Homo sapiens: one gene and its partner. The protein of the gene in region 1 interacts with the protein of each later gene in a pairwise test. Each region holds a gene or a part of one and is shown in the gene's direction. Other genes may lie near its edges.

The links.
Region 2: the proteins of KASH5 (region 1) and C14orf180 interact in binary tests that used the Homo sapiens proteins (3 or more experiments, as listed by UniProt).

What each region holds. Positions count from the first base shown.
Region 1 is NC_000019.10:49,391,249-49,395,000, forward strand, and holds part of KASH5 (protein KASH5), read left to right. Parts: intron 1-2,097; exon of another isoform or gene 2,098-2,151; coding exon of another isoform or gene 2,152-2,152; exon of another isoform or gene 2,153-2,171; intron 2,172-2,228; exon of another isoform or gene 2,229-2,584; coding exon of another isoform or gene 2,585-2,609; intron 2,610-3,227; coding exon 3,228-3,332; intron 3,333-3,752. UniProt on the Homo sapiens protein: As a component of the LINC (LInker of Nucleoskeleton and Cytoskeleton) complex, involved in the connection between the nuclear lamina and the cytoskeleton.
Region 2 is NC_000014.9:104,582,639-104,586,390, forward strand, and holds part of C14orf180 (nutritionally-regulated adipose and cardiac enriched protein homolog), read left to right. Parts: intron 1-3,752.

The sequences.
Region 1 (3,752 bases):
CCCCTGCCCCGCTTCATTTCTCTTCACAGTGCTCACATCTGTATGTCATGTTTTGTCTCTGTCTCCCCTGCTAGAGCATGAGCTCCACAAGGCAGCGTCTGTTTTATTCACTCTGGTATTCCCAGTCCCTAGAGCAGCGCTGTCCTGTGGAAGTATAATATGAGCCACATAGGTAATTTATTATTTTTTAAAAGAAAAAAGGAACAGGTGAAATGAATGTTGATAATGGATTTTCCTTATATAGCCAGACTAATACCCTGTATATTATATATGTATACAGGATATACATACATAGAGATATATATATGTATATAGCCAATATATAGCCAATATAAAAAATGTATCCAGATAATCTGTTTTTTTCATACTAAGCCCTAAAGATCTAGCGTGTACTTTACACTAACAGAGCATTTCAGTCTACACTCGCCTCAGTTCAGGTGCTCCAGAAGGAGAGACTGCCCTGTTGGCTGGGACCCCAGAGCAACTCCTGACTCACTGTGGGAGCTCACTTACTGTTGAGTGAACGGACGGATGTAGGTTGAACGGGTGTGAAAGCTGGCTTCAGAGGGTGGGGAGGAGGCACTGGGGTTGCCTCTCTGAAACTCATCTGCCAAGTGAGAGAGCCCAGTCTGATGGGGATGGTAGGGCCCCTTTCTTAGAGGCTCCCAGGCATCCACGGCACAGCCTGCGTCTTTTTCTACAAAGCCCCAGACCTCAGGAGGCTTTCCAGATAGGAGGGTCAGAGGTAGACACCAGGGTGTGGGAACCAGAGGACAGGCTGTCTAGTGACAGCCATCTAAACTTCACCTGCACCAGCAGAGGGCGTGCAGCCACCAGGATCCGGGTGGCAAGGGCTGAGACAGCTTCGAGAGGCTCTGGAAGGAAAGGTAGGAACACACCCAGAAGGAGAGATGGAGACAGAGGAAGGCAAAGGGAAAAAGAAACAGCAGAGGAAGGAAAGAGAAGACTTAGGGAATGGAGAGTCTCTGAGATATGGGAAGGGAAGCACAGAGACTGAGATACAGGGAAGAAAACGGGGACAAGCGACATGGAGGCAGAGAGACAGGACGTGGGGAAGAGAGACTGGGAGAAAGATAGAGAGAAAGAGCCAAAGAGAAATGTAACGAAGAGGCAAGGACAGAGACATAGAGGAGATAGAGACACTGAGGAAGGAGATCTTCCTGAGGAACAGAAATGACATCTCCCTGGGGGAATCCTGGGATGCGACTTCAGACACATGCTGATCCTCAGAGCCAGCACGACCTGATGCCAGTCCTGAGTTCTATTCCCAGCTTAGCTCTCTCTGGCAAGCAGCCCTGGGTGAACCATCTCATTGGGCCTCAGGGTCCTCGTTCATGTAACATGAGAAAGACACTGAGAGGGCTGGGTATGGTGGCTCACACCTGTAATCCCAGCACTTTGCGAGGCCAAGGTGGGCGGATCACTTGAGGTCAGGAGTTCGAGACCAGCCTTGCCAACAGGGTGAAACCCCATCTCTACTAAAAATACAAAAATTAGCTGGGCCTGGTAGCAGGCACCTGTAATCCCAGCTACTCGGGAGGCTGACGCAGGAGAATTGCTTGAACCTTGGAGGCAGAAGTTGCAGTGAGCGGAGATCACGCTACTGCACTCCAGCCTGGGTGACACAGCGAGACTCCATCTCAAAAAAAAAAAAAACAGTGAGAGGAGGAAAACAGACTGGGGCTAAAGCCCTGGTCTCCCCCTAACTGTGAGTCCACACGCCCCTTCCCAAGGGCCAAACCTAGGAGCATAGGTTCAAGACAGAGGGGGTGCAAATTTCACTCACTGCAGAGAATCCTGGAAGAGTTAGAGGGATGAGAAAGTTGACTCATATGTTAAACAGGGTGACCTTTGGCGAGTTCTTAGTTTCTCTATGCCTTAGTCCCCTCATTTGTAAAGTAGGGATTATAATAGCATCGATTATTATTATGCTAGTAGACAGTTCATGTAAAGTGCTCAGAAAAGGCCTGGCACCTACTAAATGCTCAATAAGTGTTCAATTCTATTCTTGAGTCCCCACCACGTGCCAGGCCTTCTGCCAAAGCCTTTCTAGATTGTATCTCATTTTCTCTCTAGGAAAGAGGTAACACCAACCCCATTTTCCAGAGGAAGAAACTGAGGCCCAAGAGAAGTTGAGTCCATTGCCCCAGGTGCCACCACTTGTCTGAGGCCAAGCCTCGGTTGCCCCCTGGATCTACCCCGTCCTGCAGCCTGTGCTCAGTGAGCTGCTGCACCCAGCTGTTCAAGGCCAGGGCAGGGAGCCTAGAAGTTCACTTCCAGCCCTGGGAGAGAGGCTGGGCCAGCCCAGTGGCTCCTGCAGTTGAGGATCTCTTCCTATGTCATGGAGCATTTGTTGAGCACCTGCCATCTGCAGGTGTTGTGGCTACAACAGTAGACAAATAGACCCCAGGACGTGTGTGTGTGTGTGTGTGTGTGTGTGTGTGTGTGTGTACATGCGTGTGCTTCACATACACAGAGCTAACTCAGCCCTGGTGAGGAGGATCACTCTACCCACCCCCCCAGTAGGGAAACCGAGGCTCTAACAGAAGAGACTTGCCCACAGATGTGCAGCTGGACTCTGCACCCAGGTCTGACACACTGATCCAGCTCATAACCATTCCCTCACTGCCCACCCTGTCTGGTTTACCCTATCCCTTCATGTCTCAGCCCCTGGCCATGGGCTCCAATGATGCCACCCTTGCCTTAGGGATGCAGGGAGGAGAGAGACCTGGTCCCCAGGGTGGGCTGGGAGACCGGAGATGCAGCAGGCGGGATCGATCTGGGCTGCCCATGCATTATTGGATTGTTCCTGGCTCCTGGGCCCCCCCTTCACTCTCAGCTCCTCCCAGAATCCTCTCTTCTTTGCCCTCCCCGACCCTGTCCCTCTCTGAGTCCAGCCTGGGAGGCTGGAGAGGAGAGGAGGAAAGGGTGATCTCAGAGCGTTCTTCTCTGGGCTCCTAAGCCAATTGGACACAAAAAGACAGCAGGGGGGACTTCCTGGTTTGAAAGATGGGGGGAAGTAACTCAGAGACCCTCACATTGTTGCCCCCTCCTGAAGCTTCCTGCTGTTCCCCACCCGCCCGAACTCTCAGTGCTCTGAGTGAATTCCCTCCCCGCTACAGAGCCCAGGAGGCTGAGGACCTGGGGTCACCCCTCTTCCTTCCTTATTCTTCCCACTGGTGAGCTGAGCCCTCTTGTCTCCCCAGTGTACCTCCGGGAGCGGCCTGAGGAGGCAAGGCTGGGAATGCCGGTCAGCTTGGAGGAGCAAATACTCAACTCCACGTTCGAAGCTTGTGACCCTCAGAGGACAGGTGGTGGGGGCATGAGGGGTGCTGGGGACCAGTGCGGGCAGGATGGGGTGGAGGCTGGGAACTGGGGAGCCTCAGAGAGAAGACTGGGCTAAGGCCCCCTCTTGGGGGTATTGTAAGAACAAAGTGGGTGATTATGGGAAGCTTCAGGAAGAAGAACGTGGATAATGGGGTGAAGGCCTTTTAGAATGAGGAAAACTTGGGGGACGTTGATGGAAGAGGGCAGAGTTTTGGGGTCGTGGGATAGGGGAGGGAGGCAGCCACCATGGTGGCGTGGGGCATGGCTGATGCTGTCCCTATGTCCATCCCCTTTGGTTTACCCTGTGATGGGGGGATGACTGGGCCCCATTTCCAGGTGAAAAAGTGGACTCAGAGGAGGGGAAAGGGCTTGCCCAGTGTGTCTCCACTGGGCCATGGAGCAGG
Region 2 (3,752 bases), on another chromosome or scaffold:
CTCCGCCAGGGAGCTCGGTGCCCCCTCTCAGTAGAGGAGCTGGTAAGAACCCCCCAGCCCCCCAGCACCAAGGGAGGCGCCATGGGGTTCCTGTTCCCAGAGTGGGGGTAGAGTCCCCTCGGGTGGACGCGCCCTCCCCAGCAGCGGGCCTAGCGGGACACTTACAGGTCCAGGCTCTGAAGCTATTTTCCGCCCTTTATCTCCCATCTGTCACGAGGCCTCCAGTTACACACTGTCCCTGCCAGAGGCCCCAGGCCTCCCCGCCCCCACCTGCCGAGCATGCCAGAGCCACTCCTTCCCTGCTTCCACTGGGGAAAATGAGGCCCAGGGAGGTCACACCACTTACCCGAGGTCACAGAGCCAAAGAAGGACAGAGCCCAGGACTTGAGCCAGACCTCTCTTCCAGAAGGGGAAGCGTGAAGCCCAGTTAGGGAGGGGATGGCAGGGCTCAGGGAGGCTGTCTGGGAGCAGAGCATGGCCCACGTGAAGGTGCATCTCTGGAGAGGGGACCGCGGAGCTCAGGGAGGCTGCCTGGGAGCAGAGCGTGGCCCACGTGAAGGTGCATCTCTGGAGAGGGGACCTCAGGGCTCAGGGAGGCTGCCTGGGAGCAGAGCGTGGCCCAGGGGAAGGTGCATCTCTGGAGAGGGCCCCAGGGCTCCCGGAGGGGAGGTGTCATCCCATAGGATGTCCTGACTGTCCAGACACAGCCAGAGCCACCTGAGCTCTGTTCCTGGGCACATTCCCTCCCCGAGTGATGCCAACAGTGGCTGATGGCACAGAGCACAGGCTTGGTGCGGACTCGGGTCTGTGCACTGACTCCCACCCTCACGCGAGCCCGCAGAGGCTGCTGCTCTCCTCACCCCCATTTCACAGCTGAGCAGACCAACGCCCAGGCAGATTAGGAGACTTGCCTAAGGTCACACGTGGTCACACAAGGTGCTCTGGAGCCCACACCTGAAGAGGGGGAGGTGCTGTCCCGTAGGAAGTCCTGACTGTCCACATTCCGGCAGAACTCTGTGCCCCAGAAGGCGAAGTCGCGTCCTCCCCAAGTTATGCTGCTCAGCAACAGATGGTTAATGCCACAGCCAGGCACCCTCACAAACACACTGCCTACGCCTGCACATTCACATACACTCTACACAAACACACACACATTCACCCACACATACGCAGATACACTCACACACACACACGGGCACATGCATGGACACACACACACATGCATATTCACATGCACGCACAGAAATACAAGTACACATATGCACACATAGCCACACCTCCATGCACACATTCACACACACAGACACCCCACACGTGCACACTCATGCCCTCTGACACACGTGCCCACTCTCACACTTGCACACTCAGGGGAATACTCACACATGTGTGCACTCACACACGTGCACACACACACTGTTTTCCCACCATCCCTTGGACAGACCCCAGGCCAAGGAGGGGTGAATAGCGAGAGCTGCTGGCAGGAGCTGGGGGAGACTGCGTCCAGCCCTGCATCCCTGCGTGACTCCGTCGGCCCAAGCCTCTCCAGGCCTGTTTCCCCATGAGGAGTGAACCTGGCTGGGCCCCCTGGAATGCTGCTGCAGGGTCGCCTGGCAAGGGGCTGTGGCCCTGGGCACGCCAGCCAGCCCCAGGCCGTGCAGCCCCAGGAAATGACCCCGAATGCACAAGCCTCCTTCCGCCGGGCAGTGGGAGAGCCCGGGCTCTGGGTCCAAGAGGTCACTGGGGGGCTCTGCTCCACCCCCAACCCCACCCTGGGCTTTAGCAGAGTTTCTATCCCACCCAGGGTGGAAACTGAGTCAATGGCATCCAGAGAGCCCTTCCAGCCCCAGCCCTGCTACGGACAGGCAGTCAAGGTTGCCCTGCCAGGCAGCATCCCCAAAACACCAGGACAGGCCTGGCACTCTGTGGCTTCCCTAACCCTGGGGATCACGCAGAGCCCACATTCCAGGTGACCTGGCCCCAGGAGACGGGGCCCCAGCTCAGCTGGGCCTGCAAGCACAACCTCTCCCACAGCCACTCTCTGAGAGCAGGTCCTGAAGATAAGCCGCCCCTCCCCGCCACCCCCCTGGATGGCCGGCTCCTGCCACAACCCTATTTGCAATAAAAACCTGATCCGGCGATAGCAGAAAATTGCTCTCTTTTGAAATAATTGAACCCGTCCAGACAGTGTCCTCCCAGACATCATTAACAGGGCACTCTGCTTGTCTGCAGTATTTATGCCCACTTGGGGAGGTGGTCATGGCCACCCTGTTATCTCCTGTAGAGGACGGCACACGGCTGCTGGAGTCACTGCAGTATCCACCCAAACCACTCCTCCCACAGGCCTGCCCTGAACCTCTGAGGCACCCATCCCTTTGGGGGACCCTGGAGGAGTTATCCTTGAGGACCATGTAGGCCCCTCACTCTCACCCTCCCCCTTCTCAGCCCTTGGGGGCAGGGTCCTTGGAGGACCACGGGGAGCCAGGGAAGCATCTCAGGAAATGCAAACACCTGCCCTGTGAGGGGCAGGGGCGGCAGTACCCTCCAAGGACCCCAGGGCAGGGGAGAACCTGAAGGGCAGCAGGAGGTCCCCACACTGCCCCCTATCCAGCTGGGAGCAGGGCAGGGAGGACCTGGCCTGGCATCAGCTCCCAGGGAAGCCCCAGCCCCCTCTGGCCTCAGTTTCCCGACCTGAAGCAAGAGAGGCAGGCTCATCACCCCCAGAGCCCTTGAAAGGCAGACACCTGCACCTGCACAGATGCCTGGTAGGCACTGCACCCCTCTGTAGGGAGGAGTGCCCAAAAGTCAAGAACCCTGCCAAGGCTGTGAGAGAAAATTCACACTTGGGGGGCTCCACCGGTGAGCACGAATGAGGAGAGCACAGCCTCTGCCGCCAAAGACACGGGGGTGGAGGCGAGGAGGCGCCATTCACAGCCAGGAAGCAACCAGCGCAACAGAGGAGGGGACAGAGAGACAGAGATAGAGGTAGAGAGATAGAGAGAGAATCAGAGAGAGGAAGGGGGACAGAGACAGAAACAGGGAGATAGAGACAGAATTAGAGAGAGGCAGGGAGACAGAGATGGAGACAGAGAGAGAGACATAGAAAGATAGAGACAGAATCAGAGAGAGGCAGGGGGACAGAGAGATGGAGACAGAGAGATAGAGACACAGAATCGGCGGGGGCGCGGTGCAGAGAGAGACACAGAGAGAGAGTGTGAGCCGTGCTGAGGGGTGGGCCCCCAGGAGCCCAGGGGCGCCCCACCAGCACCAGCCCAAAAAGGTGGGCATGACCCTCTGGGAAGCCTTTCTGTGGACCCGGTCTCAGAGCCCTGACAATTCCCAGTCCCCAGCCCCAGGGCTTCCCGCTACCGAAAGGAGACAAAGCAAAGATGTTTCTTGCAGCCTTATCCATGACCTCCAAACATTGCAAATGACAATACTAAAATGCAACCCTCATGAATACCCAATCATCGAGGGTGACTTTCAGTGACGGGACCTCGGCCCAGTGGAATATTATGCAGCCATTAAAGATGATAATTATGAAGACCGTGGCAGCAAAGGAAATTGCTTGCGATGGCATTTCTGAACGAGCAGGGAACAGGATTTACCTGCACTGGGGACACCACAGAGGAAAAGTGGTGTCTGCTCAACAGCGTGGCCGGTCGCAAGCCCGGGAAGCCAGCCTGGCTTCCAGGAAAGAATTTTCTCCTCCTCTTATTTTCATTCCTCTGAGTGCCACTTGTGCAGTAAATAAT